Linked DNA regions of Homo sapiens. The protein of the gene in region 4 purifies or fractionates together with the protein of the main gene of each other region. This does not show direct contact. Each region holds a gene or a part of one and is shown on either strand. Other genes may lie near its edges. The genes, in order: DDX21, PARN, RPF2, UTP14A, NOP14 and DIMT1.

Region 1 (3,500 bases), on a different chromosome or scaffold from region 4:
CACCATTAGTCAATACACTTCTGAATACACACTGTATTAAATACAATTTTTTTTGAGACAGGGTTTCATTCTGTCACCCAGGCTGGCGTGCAGTGGTGTGACCACAGTTCACTGAAGCCTTGAACTCCTGGGCTCAAGCGATCTTCCTTCCTCAGCCTCTGGAGTAGTTAGGACTATAGATGTGTGTTACCACGTGCCCAGCTAATTTTTAAACTTTTTGTCGGGACAGGTTCTCACTATGTTACCCAGGAAGATCTCAAACTCCTGGCCTCAATCAATTACAGGTGTGAGCCACCACAGAGGGCCTGAAAAAGCTTTAACCACTTGTTTAAGAAGCATGAAGAACCATCACTACTATAGTACTAAATTGAATACACAGGCCTACTTCATTATATGACTGCATATATCAGCCTACAATAAGAATACATCCTGGTTCATCTTAACAAAAATAGTGGAGTGCTTCTGTTAAAATAATACGTTCTAACATCATACGATATTTCCAAGAACATTACCTTTGAGAAGTTTAATAGTTTCTTCAGATATGGGAAAATTAGAGAAAGCGCCTTCTTTTTGTTCCACAGGTATTTCCTATCAAGTAAAGGGCCATAGAAAGAAATCAATAATCACCTACACAAATTAATAGAGAACCTTCTGAGAAAGAGACAAAACAAGCTATCCTAAAGCAATTCTTCTAAACACATCACTTTAAAAATCAACCAAAAAGATACAAAAACCTTGATAGGTAACTCGAGATCTGAAAAGGAAACATTGTCATAAATCTATAAAACTTTAACAAAAGAAAAATCTGAGGCAAATATATACTGGGTAACTAGATCTCAACTAAGATCTCAACTAAGATTATGTGTGACTAGATCTCAACTAAGATCTACTCCATAACCATAATCAACAATATACTGATGGAAATGTCATTAGCCCTCTTCCAAAGCAGCATCTCTTGTATACACACATCCATAGAAAATGAACAAACATTTTATGAGGTAGCAGTCACTGTGGCATTATTTGATAGTAAGATATCTGAATGCTCAATACAAGTAGTAAGTAGATTTCAAGACATTTATATGAAGGATTATGTAACCATTAAGCGTACTTAACGAGGAAAATGCTTAGCTAGAAACAAAAAAGATACAAGATTGCACAGTACAATCCTAATCTGATTAAAAATAATAGATGCATATACTAAAAGTACTACAAGGAAACACCAAAAATTAACAAGATGACTTCTGTACTTGAAAAGTACAGGTATTAATATTTACTAAATGAATGGTGAAATTCCAGGAAGCATTTCTTTCTTTTTGCAAAATGTCTGCATTTTCTATTTTCTCTGGATCACATATTTTTTATAATCAGGAAAAAAGTTACAAATGTTGACCATGATCTATAGCAAAAAGAAAATCTATTAGAATTAGTATTTTTCAGCTGGGTGTGGTGGCTTGTGCCTGTAATCCCAGCTACTCGGGAGGCTTAGGCGGGATTATCGCTTGAAGCCACAAGTTCTAGACCAGCCTGGGCCACACAGCGAGATCCCATGTCTAAAACAAATTTTTTTAATACAATTCGTATTTCTTTCATAACTGAGTTTCTGAAAGATAACAGAATTAGGTTCTGGACAGACATTTTATCATCCTGTTCAACTCCAGGATGATTACTTAATGGCCTAACCAAAAGGACTTATGCAATCAACCTTTTCAGTAATTCCAATAATTTATTTGGTTAAACCCCTCAGAGGGAAACTAGGGCCCATTTACAAAACTGTATCTCTTCTGTTGACTGACTTGCAAATAAGCAGACCAAGACTCTCCCTAAGCTTAAGCAGTATCTGCTTATTTGTAAAGGAGGCATTGTGACACTATGCTAATTTTTTTTTTTTTTTTTTTAAAGACAGAGTCCGCTGGGAACAGTAGCTCATGCCTGTAATCCCAACACTTTGGGAGGCCCAGGCGGGCAGATCACCTGGGGTTGGGAGTTCGAGACCAGCCTGGCCAACATGGTGAAAGCCCGCCTCTACTAAAAATACAAAAAATTAGCCAGGCGTGATAGCACACACCCGTAATCCCACCTACTGAGGAGGCTAAGGTAGGAGAATCACTTGAACCCAGGAGGCAGAGGTTGCAGTGAGCTGAGATCGTGCCACTGTACTCCAGCCTAGGTGACAGAGCGAGACTCTGTCTCAAAAAAATAAAAAAATAAAAAAGACAGAGTACTCTTAGCTGAGCCACCATGCCCTGTCGTATGCTAATTTTTAAGATGAAGTCCCAGTCAGCCTAAGGTATCCCCCAACCCACAAGGTGCTGACACATCACATTTTCTCCTACTATTAAAGAGTACATATAGCAGTTACCTACTTATTTATCTGAAACAACAATGAAAGATATCTTCTACCCAATGAAGTGCAAATGTACCTGCTCTATCTCACTGTTACTTTCTTCACTGGCAGCTTCACTGGGGTTACAGTCCGGTTCAGGATGAGGAAATCCATTCTTCAGTTTGGGGCTTTTCTCTCTAGTTTCTCCATTCATTTCCTTTTCTTTCTTCATCTTCTTGGGCTTAGGAGCATCTATTTCTTCCTCAGAAGGCTCCTCATTTTTTGTCACTTTTTTGGTTTTAGAAGAAACCACTTTCTTTTCAATGGGCTCCTTTTTCTTTCTCAAACTTTTGGTTTTAGGAGAAATGTCATTTTGAGATGGCTCCTCTTTCTTTTTTGCCTTTTTGGATTTAGGAGAATTCATGTCAACTTCAGAAGGCTCTGCTTTCTTTTTAACTTGTTTAGCTTTGGGGAAAACAGTTTCTTCCTCTTCTGCTATCTCTTCAGTCTTATCAGATTTTGGCTTCTCTTTTTTCTCTTTCTAAAAAAAATTCATAAGGAAAATACAAACACTGAATAAGGCATTTATACATTTGCAACATTCATCAATTCTGGATTATTTCAAGATCATTTTCAACTTTAAAAAATACAATTTTGGGGCATTTCGACATTTGTACTTTCATGCTGTGATAAGGTAAAAATCAAAATAGTAAGCTTTTTCTAAAATCGCTTCTTAGCTATATATATAGACGGGTATATATCAATAGTTTCACTATCTTGGAAAATGAAGAGTGCCCCTTAGTAACTATTCAACTCATGTGGGTCAAACAGTTGTAAAACAGATTTTCTTTTTTGAGACAGAGTCTCGCTCTGTCGCCCAGGCTGTAGTGAAGTGGCACAATCTCAGCTCACTGAAACCTCCACTCCTGAGTTCAAGTTATTCTCATGCCTCAGCCTCCCGAGTACCTGGGACTACAGGCGCCCACCACCACACCCAGCGAATTTTTGTATTTTTAGTAGAGGTGGGGTTTTCCCATGTTGCCCAGGCTGGTCTCAAACTCCTGAGCTCAGGCAACCCACCCACTCCGGCCTCCCAAACTGCTAGGATTACATGAGCCACCGTGCTTGGCCTATAAACCAGATTTTCATAAGGGATTTGGATAAGCTCATGGGATAC
Region 2 (3,500 bases), on a different chromosome or scaffold from region 4:
AAATTAAAAAGTTAGCCAGGCACAGTGATGCACACCAGTAGTCCCAGCTACTTGGGAGGCTGAGCCCAGGAGTTCAGCGTTGCAGTAAGCTATGATTGAACCACTGTACTTCCAGCCTGGGTGACAGAGTGAGACCCTGACTCTTAAAAAAGAGGCGGCACAGCTTCTGCTCTCTCTGCTCTCCACCACGTAAGGACAGGAGAAGGCAGCCATCTGCAAACCAGGAAGTGGGCTCTCACCAGATACTAGGTCTGCTGGCAACTGGGTCTTGGACTTTCCAGCCTCCTGAACATGAGAAATAAATGTCTGTTGTTTAAGCCCCACACTCGACAGTAATTTATTACAGCAGCCTAAGCCAGGAGACAGGTAAGATCCACCCTAGATCACTGCGTGTTTGACTGAAAGACATGTAATGCGTACCTAGGTAATTGGCCATGGAGATGAAGCACAGCCCTGTGATGTAGGCATCGTAGCCTGCCTCGTGGAGTTGTTCAGAGGCTGTGTCATAACTTGGAAAACCTTCGGCACTTTCTAAGAAAAAAAAGGAAAAAGTTTTCCTCAAAACAAAGACTAGTAAGCACATTGCCCTACCAATCAAAATTGCATTAGCATATGCTAGAGAAATACCCTAAATAGGCAGAAAAAAGCTATCTATTCCTTAATTCTCTCTATATAAGACCTTAAAATACAAGATAACAGAGTCACTGAAAAGGAGGGCTTTGGTCTAGGATACAGAAATGCCTCAGTTAGATTACAAAGGACTCAGCCGTGGGCTTTCTCGTCCCACACTGGTGGGTGCTATTTATGATCATCCATAACTCACTCTAGGACAATGATTCCTCTTCTGCTTGCTTTCTAAGGCCATGAAAAGGATATTCTTCCCTTATACAAGATGGTCACATCAGGCCACAATAGATGATCCAGAGTAAAGATTAAGAGCATGGGCTCTGGAGTCACACTGAGTTCGAATCTCTGCTCCACCACTTATTTGCGGTATGACCTTGGGCAAGTCACTTCATCCCTAAGGTTCCAGTTTTGTAAAACAGAGATGATAATCAAACCTTCTTCAAAAGGTTATTGTTAGGATCAGATAAGATAATATAAGTTAAACTCTTACCTAGTGCTTGGTACATAGTAAGTGCTCAAAAACTGTTATCTATCAATACCTGAGGCAACCCTCCCCCAAAAAAAGAGAAGACTGCAATTCACTATCAACAGCTCCAACTCACTACTGTCCTCTACTATGTTCCCAAGCTTAGAGATCGAAAGGTGACAGCACAACCAACTCCAAAAATAAATCGAACTTGCTATAATGCTGGCCTTGGATCATGGAACCACTTTACAGCAAAGACCGCTTTATATACAATATGGTTCTTTTGTGACATTGATAAATACAGATGTGACCAGATAAACTATAAGAGGAATGACCTGCTTTAGACTGAATTCTCTACCAGATACCACTATTTTATATGGAAATAATAACATAAAACTATAACTCATAAATAATTATATCCTAGAACCATTCTGGAAATGAATGTCAGGAAGGTTACTATAACACAGAATCAAAAGCATAAATGGAAATTAACAATGAAAAGGCTGTAACTGTTTTTATGTCAATACAATGCTCTTTAAGCAAGAATTCTTTAACTCCATATTAAATATTAGACTTGATGCCTTTAAAAAAAAGCCTTTTAACATGGTAGCCACCTAAGTAATATCTTCCACTCCATCATCAACTGAGACACATTCTTTCCAAAATCAATTATTTCCATTATATTGTTATAGAAAAGGTCCACGTTTTCTCCCCCAATGGCCCCACCACCACTTTTCTTAATTCCTTTCTTGGACTATTACCCAGAAAGGGGCAAATAACTGTAATCTTGGCTGCTTTAATACTTTGCATTATCAATTTCTAAACCATTAGTCCTATTATCCATGTCTTTAGAAGTTTTCAGGCTACAACTAATGGCTCGCTAATCACCGTATCAGCAGCACAATCAGGTTAACAGGGACCAAGGAAGTAGCACCTGGTAGGCTCTCCACATACCTTGGTGGTGGCCCGAGGTGGCAAAACACCTCCATCTCATCTCCCTACTTCTGGTTTTCCTCAGTGCTGCTGTTTCTACTCTCTAAACCAGCTGAAAAGGAGGCAGGGTGGGGACTTGCCTTAATCTCACCTGTAAATCCAGTTCTCGGGCTTTTCTGAGATGGAAAATATATTTTTTACTCTACCCCTGGTGATTAATCACTAGCTCTTTGTCTCTGCTTCAATAATGTATGAAAGAATAAAAGGGCACATCAAGTTTTAGGAGAATTCCATATTATTAGAAAATAGAAGCCTTGAAGCTTTAATTGCTAAAATTCTCAATGAATGGCTACCCAACTCCATTAACATAAAATATATGTAGAATTAAAAGACCATCTTTATTCAAAAAACAATAATTCAACACACGGTACGTGCAAGTGAATTCAGCCAAAATCTATAAATGAACAATACGGTCTCCAGAGCCATTCTGCTTTTCTTCTACAATATACATCAATAATTATTACAAAGAGTTTGGAGGGTTTCCGGTTTAATATTCTTACCAACTTTAGGAGGGTTGAAAGGTGTCTCTTTTAACCGCTTTTCCAATTCCGCAAGGGATGTGTTGTTAATGATATCCTGCAAACCACGAAGCAAAGAATTATGAGATTTCATCATCTCAGAACAATATATTAAAGAGATTCACTGACCCCCCCAAAAAAAAGACAGCATCTAGTACTGTCTCCTTGTGTTCTTTAAAGAAACACAGAAGTCTTCGTTTTTTTCAATGTGAAAGAGAAGCAGCTAGTTTAATTTTTATAATATACAAAGTATAACCAAATGAATAAAGATCTTTACAGATGCATTAAATACCTCCAAACCTTTTGCCAGAAGGCTATATTGTTCTGGCATTCATTTCACTCAGTAATATGCAGTCGCTTTATAAAGTAGCAAATGAATAATACCTTAAAAGGTTGTGTGCTGGCCATCAATTTAGTATCCAAGAGTCTAAAAAGAATTTTTAACAAGGTAAACAAAATGTATATCAATGTTTAAAATGTCTTTTACTCAAATATGTAAGCTACTTAAAATACTTCATACATAAAAAACATAATTAAAACATAAAATGTTTAATACAGAAAATACTTAAACACAGACAAAGTAATTAAACACATTGGCCATTTTGAACCCAGCACCAGCATCCCTGCTACGTTGGAGTAGGTACTCAGTCCCATCATCAGCGACTTCATTGAGCAACTGCAGGAGAGTCCACACTTGGAGTACAAGTTCTAGATTCACCTGGATCCTCAGAGAGCCTGGGCTCCATCAATCTCAAGGGTGAGTCAAATACTCTCACATGGTTTTACGTGGTTCAAATACTGCTGCCGGTCTACCATTCCCAAACTGCTACCATCTACTCCTACTCCTCAGGTTTGTAAACTATAAATTCTTCTGCAGGGCCAAAATCTACAATCAG
Region 3 (3,500 bases), on a different chromosome or scaffold from region 4:
TTGAGAAGAGAGAACCGAAACTCAATGAAAATATTAAAAATGCCATGCTGATTAAAGGGGGAAATGCAAATGCAACAGTGACAAAAGTACTTAAAGATGTGGTAAGTATATATACTTAATCTTTAAAAGGTATTGAAGTCATTTTAGAATTTTCAGCATGCTAGGATGGGCTGTCGGAGAAATACGTAGATAAGCTTGCCTTACCATAAGAACTACTAGTCTTAGAGAAGAGCTAAAGTTGGGGGTTTATTTACCTTGCGTGGCACCTTTTCTTAAAGCAACTAGTTCTCTTAGTAAATTTTATTATTGTTTTTTAGGAGCACAGGTGGGTCTGGTAGAGTGAAGGTCTCCCTTAGTAAATTTAAACTGTTTTCAATTACTAGAATTTGGCTTACTTACATTTTAGGAAAAAATCTAATTTGTAAAGAGAAGTAACTGCATATTGCTGTATATTTAGTCATTCAACAACACCGGTTACTGTGCCTCTGCTGGGAATTAATAGGTGAGACACAGTTCTTTCAGTGAGCTTAGAGAGATAGACATGTAAAAAGTTCTTACACTGTGCTGTGCTGGAGGCATGGACAGGGTAGGGTGGGAAACAGTTAAAATCACATAGGGGAGGCCAGGCACGGTGGTTCACGCCTGTAATCCCAGCACTTTGGGAGGCCGAGGCAGGAGGATCACGAAGTCAGAAGTTCGAGACCAGCCTGGCCAACATGGTGAAACCCCGTCTCTACTAAAAGTACAAAAATTAGCCGGGTGTGGTGGCGGGCGCCTGTAGTCCCAGTTGCTCGGGAGGCTGAGGCAGGAGAATCGCCTGAACCTGGGAGGTGGAGGTCACAGTCAGTCGAGATTGTGCCACTGCTCCAGCCTGAGTGACAGAGAGAGACTCCATTTCAAAAAAAAAAAAAAAAAATCACATAGGGGGACCCCCACACAGGGTAGGTTCCCCCAGAGATAACACTGCAGCTTCATTTTGAAGGAGAAGTTGGTGCAAGAAGTGGGAGAGAAAGAGAAGATCCTCTGAGGCTGAGAAAGAAGTTTGTGCAAAAGGGAGTATGAAGGAGCATTGATGCATTTGGAGAACTGTAAATAATTGGGCATGGCCAAAGGAGAGTGGGCTAGATGAGGCTAGAAGAGGAGGCATGGGTCACATAGTAACATGAAATTTGAATTCTAATCTGAAAGCTCCGTGTAATCATTGAAAGATATTAAGCAAGAGATACCATCAGTCCTTTTAATTGGCTTGATTAGAGAGGGTTGAGAGCAAATGTAGGAAACTAAGCCATTGCTGCCAGCTAGGTGAAGAGCATCTGGAGTCCAGTGGTGGCAATGAAAATGAGAAATGACCAGAAAGAATAGATGTTGAGGAAAGAAGAGTTGGGAACTAGTGAAAAGTATGACTTCCCAGGTGTTTGGCTTGAGTGCCTGATGGGCAATAATGCCAATTAGAAAATGTATCAAGCGGAGCAGGTTTGGAGGGAAAGGTGAAAGGTTCGGTTTGGGACATGTAATTTAAGTAATGAAAATAAAAGCTTTGTTTTTTCTACCTCTGTAGCCTAGTGTACAGCCCAGTGTCTGGACATAGTAGGTACTCAATATATATGTAATCTATGAAAGAAAGGCATAGTATGGGCCAGGCACAGTGGCTCACACCTGTAATCCCAGCACTTTGGGAGGCCGAGGTGGGCGGATCACGGGGTCAGGAGTTCGAGACCAGCCTGGCTAACACGGTGAAATCCTGTCTCTACTAAAAATGCAAAAATTAGCCAGCCATGGTGGTGGGCGCCTGTAATCCCAGCTACTAGGGAGGCTGAGGCCGGAAAATCTGCTTGGACCTGGGAGATGGAGGTTGGAGTGAGCTGAGACCACGCCATTGCACTTACTCCAGCCTGGGTAACAGAGCAAGACTCCAACTAAAAAAAAAAAAAAGACATAGTATGTGGAGATATCTAGTAGGTTATTTGACTAATTAGGCCTTGAGTACAGCCAATAGATCTTTGAATTAAATCAATTAAGTAATCGAATACATTTTTGTTGTTGTTATTGAGGTGGAGTCTCACGCTGTTGCCCAGGCTGAAGTGCAGTGGTGCCATCTTGGCTTACTGCAACCTCTGACTCCCGGGTTCAGGCGATTCTCCTGCCTCTAGCCTCCCAAGTAGCTGGGAGCCACCACACCCAGCTAATTTCTGTGTTCTTTTAGTAGAGACAGGGTTTCACCATGTTGGCCAGGCTGGTCACAAACTCCTGACCTGACATGATCTGTCCGCCTCGGCCTCCCAAAGTGCTGAGATTACAGGAGTGAGCCACCATGCCTGGCTTTGAATATATTTTAAACTTGACCAAACTCTATGCCTGATAAGCATAGTCAATTCAGATGTCTGAATGCCTTATATAGGCCCATCCCTTTTTTGAAATGTTTGTCTGAATTTCATTGTGCTAACGGGAAACTGCCCCTCTCCTTCTAGTATCCATCAGCACAATGACCCTGCATATTTAAGTAAGCTTTAAAAGCAGCACAATATTACAGATTACTACAATAATTAAAATTCATCATGATGACTCTGAGTCATCAAGAAGAGGTGGCAATGTTTATTACACGGAAACAGGGAAATAGTTGGCCAAGAATCATCAAAAGTTTTAGTACTTAAAAAGGTAGATTTTACTGTTGCATTTTCTTTGTTCACCAACTCTGATAGTTGATGAATGATTATTATACCTTATTTTTCATTGTTTCCCTCATTTACCCATTTCTCTAATGCAAGGTAGTACCTGATGACATCTTTGTTATTCTCTATGGTAGAGCAGTACTGGCCATACAAGTAATAAATGATTATAGGCCAGGTGTGGTGGCTCACACCTGTAATCCCAGCACTTTGGGAGGCTGAGGTGGGAGGATCACTTAAGCCTAGGATGACAGCCTGGACAACAAAGTGAGACCCCATCTCTATAAATTAAATTTAAAAAAATAATAAAATACAGCCTGGACAACATGGTGAAACCCCATCTCCACTCAAAATACAAAAATTAGCTGGGCGTGGTGCATGTGTCTGTACTTGGGAGGCTGAGATGGGAGGATCACCTGAGCCCTGGAGTTTCAGGCTGCAGTAAGCTTTAATCACGCCATTGCACTCCAGCCTGGGCAACAGAGTGAGACCCTGTCTCAAAAATAAATAAATAAAATAAAATGAATGATTATTTGTGGATAGGTAGAACTAGGAAAAAAATGAAGAACATTGAATAATAGGCATTTTTTAAAGAGCTGTGTTTAACCTCTGGCTAGTATTCTAATTGTCATCATTATTACTGTTTCTAAGTTTTCTGATCTCCACGCAACATTATTTCAATCTGTCAGCCTTTCGTGATAGAATTTATTTTTTCTGTTTTTGTCTACTACTTTTTTTTTTTTTTTTTCTGAGACAGGGTCTCACTCTATCACCAGAGCTGGAGTGCAGTGGTGCAATCACGGTTCACCACAGCCTCGAATTCCTGAGCTCGGG
Region 4 (3,500 bases):
CAGGATGGTCTCGATCTCCTGACCTCGTGATCCGCCCACCTCGGCCTCCCAGAATGCTGGGATTACAGGAGTGAAAATTTCATAACTTTCGACTATCACTCTCAACCCCTTCTTTGAAGCTCCAGTCTCATATTCCATGTGACTAGCAGGGATCACCTGGGTCCCCCATATGCACCTTAAACTTAGTCCAGTCCAAAGTAAGCTTCGCATTTCCTTTCCCCAGACTTCCAAAACCTATACCACCCCCTTCATTCTGCAACTCAGTTAACAGCATAACTCCCTACCCCAGTCACTTAGGTTGGAAACCTCAGTCATTTGATTCCTTCTTGACCCCTTCACTGTCTCCCTCTCCGCCAGCTTATACAGGGGGCTAGACCTGCAAATTCTGTCTCTGTAATAGCCCTTATGCTCCTATTTTCTCTTCATTTTCATTTTCACTGCCCTAATCGAGGCCCTCATTGAACCTTTCCTTTGGAACTTTACATATATCCTCTACACAATCAGCAGGATTTTCTTGCTGAAACACAGTTGATCATTGCTCTCCTGCTTAAAATCCTTCAAAGGCTGTTCACTTACAGAATAAAATAAAATTACGTAGCATTTTAGCTATGCTGGACAACACGTTGTTCTATTACATACCACTCCTTTCCCTGTGTCTGTGTTTTTTGCTTATGCTCATCTGTTTGGATTTTTTTTCCTCCTGACAGAATTGTACTTAGGCCTCAAAGCCTAATTCAAAAGGTCACTTCCTTCCCTAAGCCTAACCTACCTCCCAATAATATTTAATGGTAATTTCCTCTGTGATTACCCCTATAGAATAACGTAGCAGTTATGTTATTTAAGGGTAACATAAAGGGTATTTAACCCATTATGTTATGCTGTTTGTGTTGTATATGTCTCTGCTCTCAAAGGCTGTGAGCTCTATGAGGACAGGAACTATCTTAATCAATTGTGTATTCCTAGCACCCCATACAAGTGCCTGGAATATAGCTACAATCAATAAATGTTTGTAAATTGAATTGAATTGAAGGGACATTACAACATTGTAGTATAAATCACTTTGTAGCCTGAGATTGATCACTACTGCAAATACTAAAAGTGGAAGAACATATACCTTTACTATTCAGTAGAATAGTTTTATGGTTAAATCAATAGCATCGTGTAACATGTGATGATGTGCGTTTATGCATTTATCCAAATATTTGTAAGTTTAATACTGACCACGATGTATATGGCTATTGAAGAAAACCACACATAATATGTGTGTGAGGTTTGAAACTAGCTCTGTTGCCTAGGGCTGTCTTTGTGCCTTGCCAGAATGTGGACCGTGGCATGATCGGCCTGAATATTTAGCCATCCTCATGATAGCATGTGGAATAACTGGTTTACAGTTCATTCGTTTCATACATACTCTGCCTAGCATGTAAAATTAACTGGAAACTGAGGAATTGGAGCCAAAGTTAGAAAATGAGGAGAGTTCAACTTGAACCATCAGGAAACAGGCTGATTACATGAAGGTCTTTTTGTTTGTTTGTTTTTAACATAATAAATAGAGATGGGGTTTCACCATGTTGCCCAGGCTGGTCTCAAACTTGTGGGCTCAAGCAATCCTCCTGCCTCAGCCTCCCGAAGTGCTGGGATTACAGGCCTGAGCCACCATGCCCATCCTATATTTTTTTTCAGGCAATATCCTTTTGTGCTCAAGAAATTAAGACACACACCCCACCACAAACTACATTTGAAGACTCTGCCAAAAAAATGCCATGTTTTTTCTCATTTTCTTTCATCAGTAATTAATGATACCAAGAACACTTATATGCATGGTTTATAGCAGTTGGCTATGGTCAAAAAAAGTTGGGCTTCCCCTCTGAGACATTTGCAGATATATGTCCTAGGTATACCATCAGTGGCAAATAATGCTTATCTTAAGATCTAATCTCACAGGGCATGCTGGGCTCACGCCTGTAATCCCAGCACTTTGGGAGGCCAAGGCAGGAGGATGGCTTGAGGCCAGGAGTTTAAGACCAACCTGGGCAACATGGCAGGACCCTGTCTCTACAAAAAATAAAAAAAGTTAGCCAGGCATGGTGGCTTACACTTGTGGTCCCAGCTGCGCAGGAGGCTGAGGCAGAAGGATCACTTGAGCACTAGAGGTGGAGGTTGCAGTGAGCTGAGATTGGAGTGCCAGTGGACTCCAGCCTGGGTGACAGAGCAAGACTCTGTCTCAGAAAACAAAAAAAAAAAAAAAAAAAACTAACCGCCCCTTCCCTCTAGAAATATTCTAAAAGAAGGCTTATGATATGAATTTGAGATTCCTAACTATAAAGTAATAGTTATGTGCTTCAAATGATACATAACAATACAGGGACTCAAGGGCAATGTGCCTAGATTCTTAAGAGAATGGAAATCAGTTTAACATATATTGGTAATCTGGGCCGGCGCGGTGGCTCACGCCTGTAATCCCAGCACTTTGGGAGGCCGAGGCGGGCGGATCACGAGGTCAGGAGATCGAGACCATCCCGGCTAACACGGTGAAACCCTGTCTCTACTAAAAATACAAAAAATTAGCTGGGCGTGGTGGCAGGCATCTGTAGTCCCAGCTACTCGGGAGGCTGGGGCAGGAGAATGGCGTGAACTCAGGAGGCGGAGCTTGCAGTGAGCCGAGATCACGCCACTGCACTTCAGCCTGGGCGACAGAGCAAGACTCCATCTCAAAGAAAAAAGAAAAAAAAAAACATATATTGGTAACCTGAACACAGTGATCCCCCTCAGCAGTATTAGAGAGTAGCCTCAGCGTCTCCCTGCTGAAGTTGTCTTATATAAGAATCAAATAAGGCTTTATTTATACTTCTGACAACAAGACTGGAACCCCCTTCTCTTGCTGTAACAGCCAATCCTATCCACTTATGATTCCAATTATAGTGTCATAAGTTAGAGAATCATAGGAATGTAAAGAGAGAAAGCTGTAAGAGCATGGCTTAAGACTCAGAATGTTTTGTTGCTTCTTTAAGGCAAGAACTCCCCTGGAGCAGGAAATTTTCAACCTCCTCCATAAGAACAAGCAGCCAGTGACAGACCCTTTACTGACCCCTGTGGAAAAGGCCTCTCTCCGAGCCATGAGCCTAGAAGAGGTAAGTGTGTCATAGGCCCTTCAGCACACCCAGGCATGCCACGCTTCTCCTAGCATTTGTCCTCTGGCCCAGGTGTCACTGTAAGTCTCATTTGTTGTAGGCAAAGATGCGACGAGCAGAGCTTCAGAGGGCTCGGGCTCTGCAGTCCTACTATGAGGCCAAGGCTCGAAGAGAGAAGAAAATCAAAAGTAAAAAGTAAGGAGGCCCCTGTGAACTGGCCTTGGGTTCCACAGAAGAAAGTCATGTGGTTCATCATGAATTCTTTGGAGAGAACCTTTGATGCAGCAACTAGAGTCATGCAGATGAGGTCCCAAACAGGAGTGACTAGCCTTTTGTTCCCCCCAAACCAACCTCATACAGTTTTGCCAA
Region 5 (3,500 bases), on a different chromosome or scaffold from region 4:
CCTGAGGAAACCCGCGCACTTGCCCACCTGCGAACGTGTAGGGCAGCTCGTCTCTGGTAGCTTTTCCAGCTCTTTCCTTGCCGCTTATCAACCCTTTCCCAGGAGTCTGCCTCTGCTCTTTTGCTGGCTTCTCGTTTTCTTCCTCACTCTCCACGTTGGATTCCAGGTCCAAGTGGCTATCTGGGCTGTCGCTCTCCTCTGTGTCCTCCCCGCCTGAACTGTCACCTTCTTCCTCGTTGCTCTCAGGGTCACTGGCTTCCTTGCTTTGCTCTTCCTGGACATCTTCCTCGACATTCATCTTTCCATCCTACCAAGAGCGTGGAAACCACAGGGCATGAGGACAGGCGGAGACAACGCTGGACCATCTCACAGCCACATCAAGAGGCTGCCCACATCAGGGCTTTCTACGTGGTTGCAAGGAACACAAACCTGTGTGCTCCATTTGCCCACTGGCACTAGGCCTCCTGCCCACCACCCGCTTCTAGGCTATTCGAGCCGCAGGAGCTACAGGCTGCTAGAGAACCCTGCGGCAGGATGCTGGGCGCGGTTCAGCTTTTGCCAGGGAGCAGCATGGGACTGGGATTTGGAAGGTGTACAGTGGCTGCGGGCTTTAGCAGGAGGAGTGTCTACAGCACCTTCTGCTCCTCCAGGTAACCTAGTGTTTTTATCAGTATCCATTTTCCTGTGTGGATCTCTTCTGCTTGAAACCTGTCCTGCCTATTTTTCTTCCCTGGACCCTGACTGATACACTCTTAAAACGAGAAAAGGGTACCGATTTATAAAGTTCGTGAATTAAAAACTACACCAGTCATGGAAACTCAATGACATCACTCAAAGAAAATTCACAACTCTAGCCTTGAGTTAGCTCCCTCAATAGTATGATGAGGTCATGCAGATAGAATCATACAGTTATTAACAAAAGTAGTTGATGTTAACCGAGTAATCAGTTTTATCTGTGTTCCTTTGAGACAGAGAGAGAGAGTGAGAAAGAGAGCGTGAGCAAGTGAGTGCACATACTATTGTTAAAGTCTTCTCTCTAAAGTTTTAATATCTGATATACCATAAACACCCAGATAAAGAACTTTAGAGAAACTGGTTAAAAAGATTTAAAATTCCCAACTGTAATAAATCCCTAAAATGAATACCAAAAAAATGTTTTTAAATTAAAAAAAGAGAGAGAAAGAGAAAATGAAGGCAAACATCTTACTTTGTAGGAAAGCAAACGCCTGTCATCTTTATCTAGCACGAAGCCATCATTCAGATCATCTGCTGACATATGTTTTGGTTTCTTAACATTTTCATCCTCATCCTTTCCAAGCATTCTTCGAAGTCTCTCAGCCTGAGCAGGAAGGAATGAGATGTCTTAGAGCACACTCTTCCAACATATGGTGAGGGGGCCGTGCAGTCCTGCCCTGGGCAGCGGGCTGGGCCTACGGTCCTCCCAGCTCTGAGGCTGGTGCATCCAGCCTGCTTTCTGCCTGCAGTTTTCAATCAGGCATGCAAACACTAGCTAAGCAGCACATTCCTCATTTAACAAAATCAACTGTTCAAACTTTGTGGCCAATACTCTCCAGTCACCAGGCAAGCCTATTATTCTGAGGCCTTCACAGCCCAATTCTGCTGGCCAGCCCCGACTGGGACTCATCACCCCCTGCACCGAGAGAATAGGAGCCAGGACGCCAAGAGCAAGCAGCTCCACGGCCTCCACTATTTGACCACACACTGGACACGGGAAGAAGCTAGTGATGTGGTTATGTCAAAACAGCCAGCTGAGCCAGCTGTGATGGCAGCCCACACCTGTAACCCCAGCACTGTGGGAGGCCGTGGTGGGAGGATCAGCTGAGACCAGGAGTTTGAGAACAGCCTAGGCAACATAGGGAGATGCTCATCTATACAAACAATTTTTGAAAATTAGCTGGGGCCAGGCGCGGTGGCTCACACCTGTAATCCCAGCACTTTGGGAGGCCGAGGTGACTGGATCACCTGAGGTCAGGAGTTCAAGACCGCCTGGCCAACATGGCGAAATCCTATCTCTACTAAAAATACAAAAATTAGCCGGGCGTGGTGGCAGGCGCCTGTAATCCTAGCTACTCAGGAGGCTGAGGCAGGAGAATCACTTGAACCCAGGAGGTGGAGTTTGCAGTGAGCCAAGATTGTGCCACTGTACTCTAGCTGGGTGACAGAGCGAAACTCTGTCTCAAAGAAAAAAAAAAAAAAAGGTATTCATGAATAAATATAAACTTTAAATAGACTAAAATATTCCACTGATCAAACAGAGTATTCTCTTCAGCCCATCCTGCAAAATGGAGCAGAAGGGGCTGTGGACGGACAGCAGCACAGCCCTGCTCCTGAGGTGCTGCCACCCTACCTCCAGCTTCCTGAGGTGCTCCTGCTCTTCCTTTGCCAATTCTGCCTCCGTCTTCATCCTGTTAGAGGGCTGCGCCTTCATTTCAAAGCCAAGCTCGCGAACCATCATGTCATATGCATCGGGCTAAGGTAGAAAGAAGAAATTCTTCATTTTAAAAATATATTTATTTCTTATTTTACAAAAAGAAAAGATCTAGCTTCCTGGCACATTCTAGTAATGGCTAGATAATGTTATTGAAGTAGCTAAGCCACATCTACGTCTTTTCTTCTAGAGAGAAAACTGTTCTGATAAGCCCTGAGGATTGCGAAATCAGTGGACATTCGGTCACAAAGAATTTGTTTACCCCTAGAAAAATTCTCAGAATACATCTGCTTTAACGAAAACAGGCCAGGTGCAGTGGCTCACGCCTGTAATCCCAGCACTTTGGGAGGCCAAGGTGGGCAGATCACGTGAGGTCAGGAGTTTGAGATCAGCCTGGCCCAACATGGTGAAACCCTGTCTTTACTAAAAATACAAAAATTAGTCAAGCATGGTGGCACGCGCCTGTAATCCCAGCTACCCGGGAGGCTGAGGCAAGAGAATCACTTGAACCCAGGAGGTGGAGGTTGCAGTGAGGTGGAGGTTGCACTACACTCCAGCCTGGGTGACAGAGCGAGACTCCGTCTCAAACAACAACAAAAACGCTACTTATCCAGGCATTACGCCCTAAACGTGGGAAACTAAGTAAAGTAACGGTAACATCAAGGCTGACTGACAAAGATGCACAGATGACCACATGACACTAATCTGCTGGGATCTAGACTTCTCTGAGAACGCAGTTTCTTAAACAAATGCAGCATTTTCCAATAGTTTCGACTAAAGAGAATGCAGTAGGAAACAACTGTTTACAGAGGCAAAAATAAGTAAATGTATATTAAATGTATGTATTATGTATCAACAGACAAACATGTCACAGGGAAGTTCAGACACCTATTCTAACGTGTCCACCCTGAAGTACTTCTTCCATCCAGAAACACCACTTTTTTCAGTTTAATTCACCTGCAATAGAGACTCAAGTAACTGAATCTACTTCCACCCCAAGATTACACACAGCAGGTAATTCAGTATCAATGTTCAACAGAAACTTGCCCTA
Region 6 (3,500 bases), on a different chromosome or scaffold from region 4:
GGGAAGATGTGTGCCTATAACAGCAGAAAAATATTGAATCAACCTAAATATTCAAACATAGGAAAATGTTAATTAGGACACATCCCTGTGCTGAAGTAGATGGAATAATTTGATGCAAGGTAGTTTTGAAGTGAGACCCAGTCTCAAAAAAAAAAAAGAAAAAATGGAATAAAACTAGGAAAACAAGGTAAAATGAAAATAGTTGTTTTAAAGTAGTATTATGGGTAACATCTTTTCATTGTAATTGTTTTTTGAGATTTAAAAACAAGAAAGAAGACCACTTGATATAAAACCTTACTACAGCCACATTAGAGAAAAACGTGATTGTGTGTGTGGTCAACTGGTGGTAAATGGAGTGGTTTGTCAATAACTCCTTCAAGGAGGTTTAGGTGTGTTACACAGGAAGTATCTGAAGTCATGTCTGTTTTGAATCTTATTTTTGAAAATGATACTTAGATTTAAATAAACGCCATGTTCTTTGTTCAGATGTGGGACCATTTTGTTTTTCCTTCCCTTTCTTTTTTTAAGATGGGGTTTCACTATGTTGCCTAGGCTGGACTTGAACTTTTGGTCTCAAGCGATCCTCCCACCTCAGCCTCCTGAGTAGCTGGTACTACAGGCATGCAGCACTGTGCCTGGCTTTATTTTTTCAAATTAAAAAAAAAAATTGTCATGCTTTGTCAAAAAAAAATTCTGAGGAAAAGACATATTCAGTGAAATGCGCCAAAGTGCAAAAATCAAATGTATGTCTTACTTTTGCATGTGTGTGCCAGCCAGATCAAGATTACAGAACATTTTCTTCACTTCAGAAAGTTTCCTTCAATTGTATATATTAAAAGACAAAATAATACCTAGTGGGCATAGACAAGAACAAGAAGTTTGTAATTTGAAGAAAATGTCTATCTTCTATTTCAGGAATGGGATGGTCTAGTAAGGATAACCTTTGTTAGGAAAAACAAGACACTCTCTGCTGCATTTAAGTAAGTATTACACTAATTTCTAATGTATAAAGGGCCAGTGCTCCAGATACTATGCTAGAATTTGGTCCTTTTCCTGAGCAGCTACCCTAAAGCATAAAGATTATGGGTCCAGACAAACTTCACCTTTTAAACTATCTTTAGAGCTTGGGAGGCTCTAAAGCAAACTTAATGAAGAAAGTTTGCTGGAGTTGAGAGTCAGATCACATTTTTTGGCAAAACAGGAAAACACTCCCAAACTCTGACCATATATCTGCTCTAGTTTTTTGTTGGAAAAATGAGGTGATGATGGACCCCTTCCACACTTGTGAAGGATATGTGTCATGTAATTAACCTGGGAAAATGCAGCTCATCAATTTGGGGTTCAAGGGTAAAAGAGAGGTGAGACACAGTTTTACAGGGCTTGGAGATTTTTTTTTAGGGGATTTTTTGTGGAGAGTCTAGAACTTCTCTAAGAATTTAAGAGGTATTAGGATTTTGCACTTTAAATATATTTAGTGTTTGCTTCATAAGTTTAAATATTCAACAACTTTTAAAATTCCTTAATTTCACCATACAGAATATAGATTTAATTTCATCTAAAATGAAATTATTGCTTAAATGGCTTATGTATTAGTTAAAAAAAAGTTTAAAAAAGTAAGAAATTACTCTGACTTTGGAATAATAACAGTGGCATCACTTCTTTATGCTATAGATCAAGTGCAGTGCAACAACTCTTGGAAAAAAACTACAGAATTCACTGTTCAGTCCATAATATTGTAAGTTAGAAAATGTTCCTGCAGTTTCATTGATTTGTTTTCTTTTAAAATGTCCATTTTTATTCTTGTTGATCTAGCATGAGATTATTTTGTACATTCCATAAGATCCTTAAAAGACAATATATAATGTATAACTAGCACAATTTTGACTTGAATTCTGACAGGTCAGTGCTGCTGTGTATCCTGTGAAACAGATATGAGCAACTTTGATTACTCCACCCTGTCCTCTAACTACTGACAGTTGTTTTTAGCCATAACAAGAATCAGATTCAGCAGTTACAGGTTCCTCAAAGCTGTAGATATGTGTAGCTTGCACAACTTAAAATAATTGTGTAGTTTACTGTCCTCTGAATTGTGACCACGTCTTGTTTCTTGCTCACATAGCAGTTACAAATATAGTTATTACTTTCTTTGTATAGAAATTGAAATAAAGTTCATATGGCTCAATAGCAGATTTCTGGTTGTGAGCCTCATGCGTATCATTTGTGTAACAGTGTGTGCGATGTGATGTTTGCTATCTTTTTAGCTTCCAGTTTAATTAGAACAGAGAGAGAAAGGCCAATTTTCTTTTTATTTTTTATGACTCAGAACCTATATGGTTTAATGTATCACAATACTATCTCCATTTTCTCTTTTATGGGCAAAAAGTCATTAGATAATCTGCCTAAGTATAATAGAAAAATATTAAGCTAGATTAAGAAAAATATTTGGATAAAATATGTGAATTAAGTGTAAAATCCTTTTGGATAAAATATGTGAATTAAGTGTAAAATCCTTAATATTCCCAAGGCTTGGGCAGGTCACCTCTTTGAGAAAAATGAGGTGGTTAAGGTCAAATCTGTAGGAAGAAAATGCATTATTTTGAAAGGAGTAACAATTGCTTTAAAATTTAATTTACAGTTGTAATTATTTGTGAAGTCTGAAACTAATAACTATTTCAGAATTTTAAAGAAGAAAATGGCTAATATAGACAGGATTACTAATTCAAGGTATTCCAAGTTTTTGTTAATAAAGATCAGCCACTTTTAATTAGAGATCCAAGTCTTAATGTAAAAATCAGGCTTTCCAAAGTCTCATTAACAGATATATTAAAGGTGACTATTTTATGACTTACTGAACTAAAAAAAAGAGTCAAGGTGACCTCATTAAAGATATGTCGTTCATTTATTCTGAATCTTATATTGATAGATAATACCAGAAGATTTCAGCATAGCAGATAAAATACAGCAAATCCTAACCAGCACAGGTTTTAGTGACAAACGGGCCCGTTCCATGGACATAGATGACTTCATCAGGTAATTACATTTTTGTTTTCCTAAGTGTTTACATTTCTTTACTGTGACACCTTCAGATTGGAGATTTTAAAGGCTTTTAAGCGGTATAAGGTGCTACCTGGGAGAGTTATTGCATAGCACTTCCATGGCATGGAATAGTATTTGGTGTAGAAGATGGAGGCTAGTTAGCTGCAGCAGAATGAACATTTTCTTTAAGAACAGTAGTAAAGAACAGTCCGAGCCAGAAGATTGCCTTTGTGTTAATGTGGTGTGCAGGTTCCAATGTGGTGTGCAGGTTCCTCCCTTCCTGCTCCTTCCCCAACTCTCATTCATAGTCTTAGTCTTAATAGCTTATCCCTCCAAAATAGTCCATAAGGTAGAAAAATCATAATACATGTAACTGGATCTGATTTTTAAAATTTCCTTACTGGGAATAGCTGTTGTTAAATCAATCTTAAGCATACAATAATGCCAGTTAGAATCCTACCTGG

The links.
Region 1: the proteins of UTP14A (region 4) and DDX21 purify together in Homo sapiens (co-immunoprecipitation; one large-scale study listed by IntAct). This does not show direct contact.
Region 2: the proteins of UTP14A (region 4) and PARN purify together in Homo sapiens (affinity purification with mass spectrometry; one large-scale study listed by BioGRID and IntAct). This does not show direct contact.
Region 3: the proteins of UTP14A (region 4) and RPF2 fractionate together in Homo sapiens (co-fractionation; one large-scale study listed by BioGRID). This does not show direct contact.
Region 5: the proteins of UTP14A (region 4) and NOP14 purify together in Homo sapiens (affinity purification with mass spectrometry; one large-scale study listed by BioGRID and IntAct). This does not show direct contact.
Region 6: the proteins of UTP14A (region 4) and DIMT1 purify together in Homo sapiens (affinity purification with mass spectrometry; one large-scale study listed by BioGRID and IntAct). This does not show direct contact.

The regions. Positions count from the first base shown.
Region 1 is NC_000010.11:68,959,170-68,962,669, reverse strand, and holds part of DDX21 (nucleolar RNA helicase 2), read right to left. Parts: intron 2,865-3,500; coding exon 2,421-2,864; intron 589-2,420; coding exon 513-588; intron 1-512.
Region 2 is NC_000016.10:14,581,761-14,585,260, forward strand, and holds part of PARN (poly(A)-specific ribonuclease PARN), read right to left. Parts: intron 3,032-3,500; coding exon 2,989-3,031; intron 2,663-2,988; coding exon 2,587-2,662; intron 532-2,586; coding exon 421-531; intron 1-420. UniProt on the Homo sapiens protein: 3'-exoribonuclease that has a preference for poly(A) tails of mRNAs, thereby efficiently degrading poly(A) tails.
Region 3 is NC_000006.12:110,985,038-110,988,537, forward strand, and holds part of RPF2 (ribosome production factor 2 homolog), read left to right. Parts: coding exon 1-101; intron 102-3,500. UniProt on the Homo sapiens protein: Involved in ribosomal large subunit assembly. May regulate the localization of the 5S RNP/5S ribonucleoprotein particle to the nucleolus.
Region 4 is NC_000023.11:129,916,164-129,919,663, forward strand, and holds part of UTP14A (U3 small nucleolar RNA-associated protein 14 homolog A), read left to right. Parts: intron 1-3,011; coding exon 3,012-3,131; intron 3,132-3,231; coding exon 3,232-3,326; intron 3,327-3,500. UniProt on the Homo sapiens protein: May be required for ribosome biogenesis.
Region 5 is NC_000004.12:2,949,907-2,953,406, forward strand, and holds part of NOP14 (nucleolar protein 14), read right to left. Parts: intron 2,492-3,500; coding exon 2,369-2,491; intron 1,340-2,368; coding exon 1,208-1,339; intron 1,173-1,207; exon of another isoform or gene 308-1,172; coding exon 28-307; intron 1-27. UniProt on the Homo sapiens protein: Involved in nucleolar processing of pre-18S ribosomal RNA. Has a role in the nuclear export of 40S pre-ribosomal subunit to the cytoplasm.
Region 6 is NC_000005.10:62,390,406-62,393,905, reverse strand, and holds part of DIMT1 (dimethyladenosine transferase), read left to right. Parts: intron 1-915; coding exon 916-980; intron 981-1,671; coding exon 1,672-1,735; intron 1,736-1,899; coding exon of another isoform or gene 1,900-1,935; exon of another isoform or gene 1,936-2,187; intron 2,188-2,880; exon of another isoform or gene 2,881-2,923; coding exon 2,924-3,030; exon of another isoform or gene 3,031-3,500. UniProt on the Homo sapiens protein: Specifically dimethylates two adjacent adenosines in the loop of a conserved hairpin near the 3'-end of 18S rRNA in the 40S particle.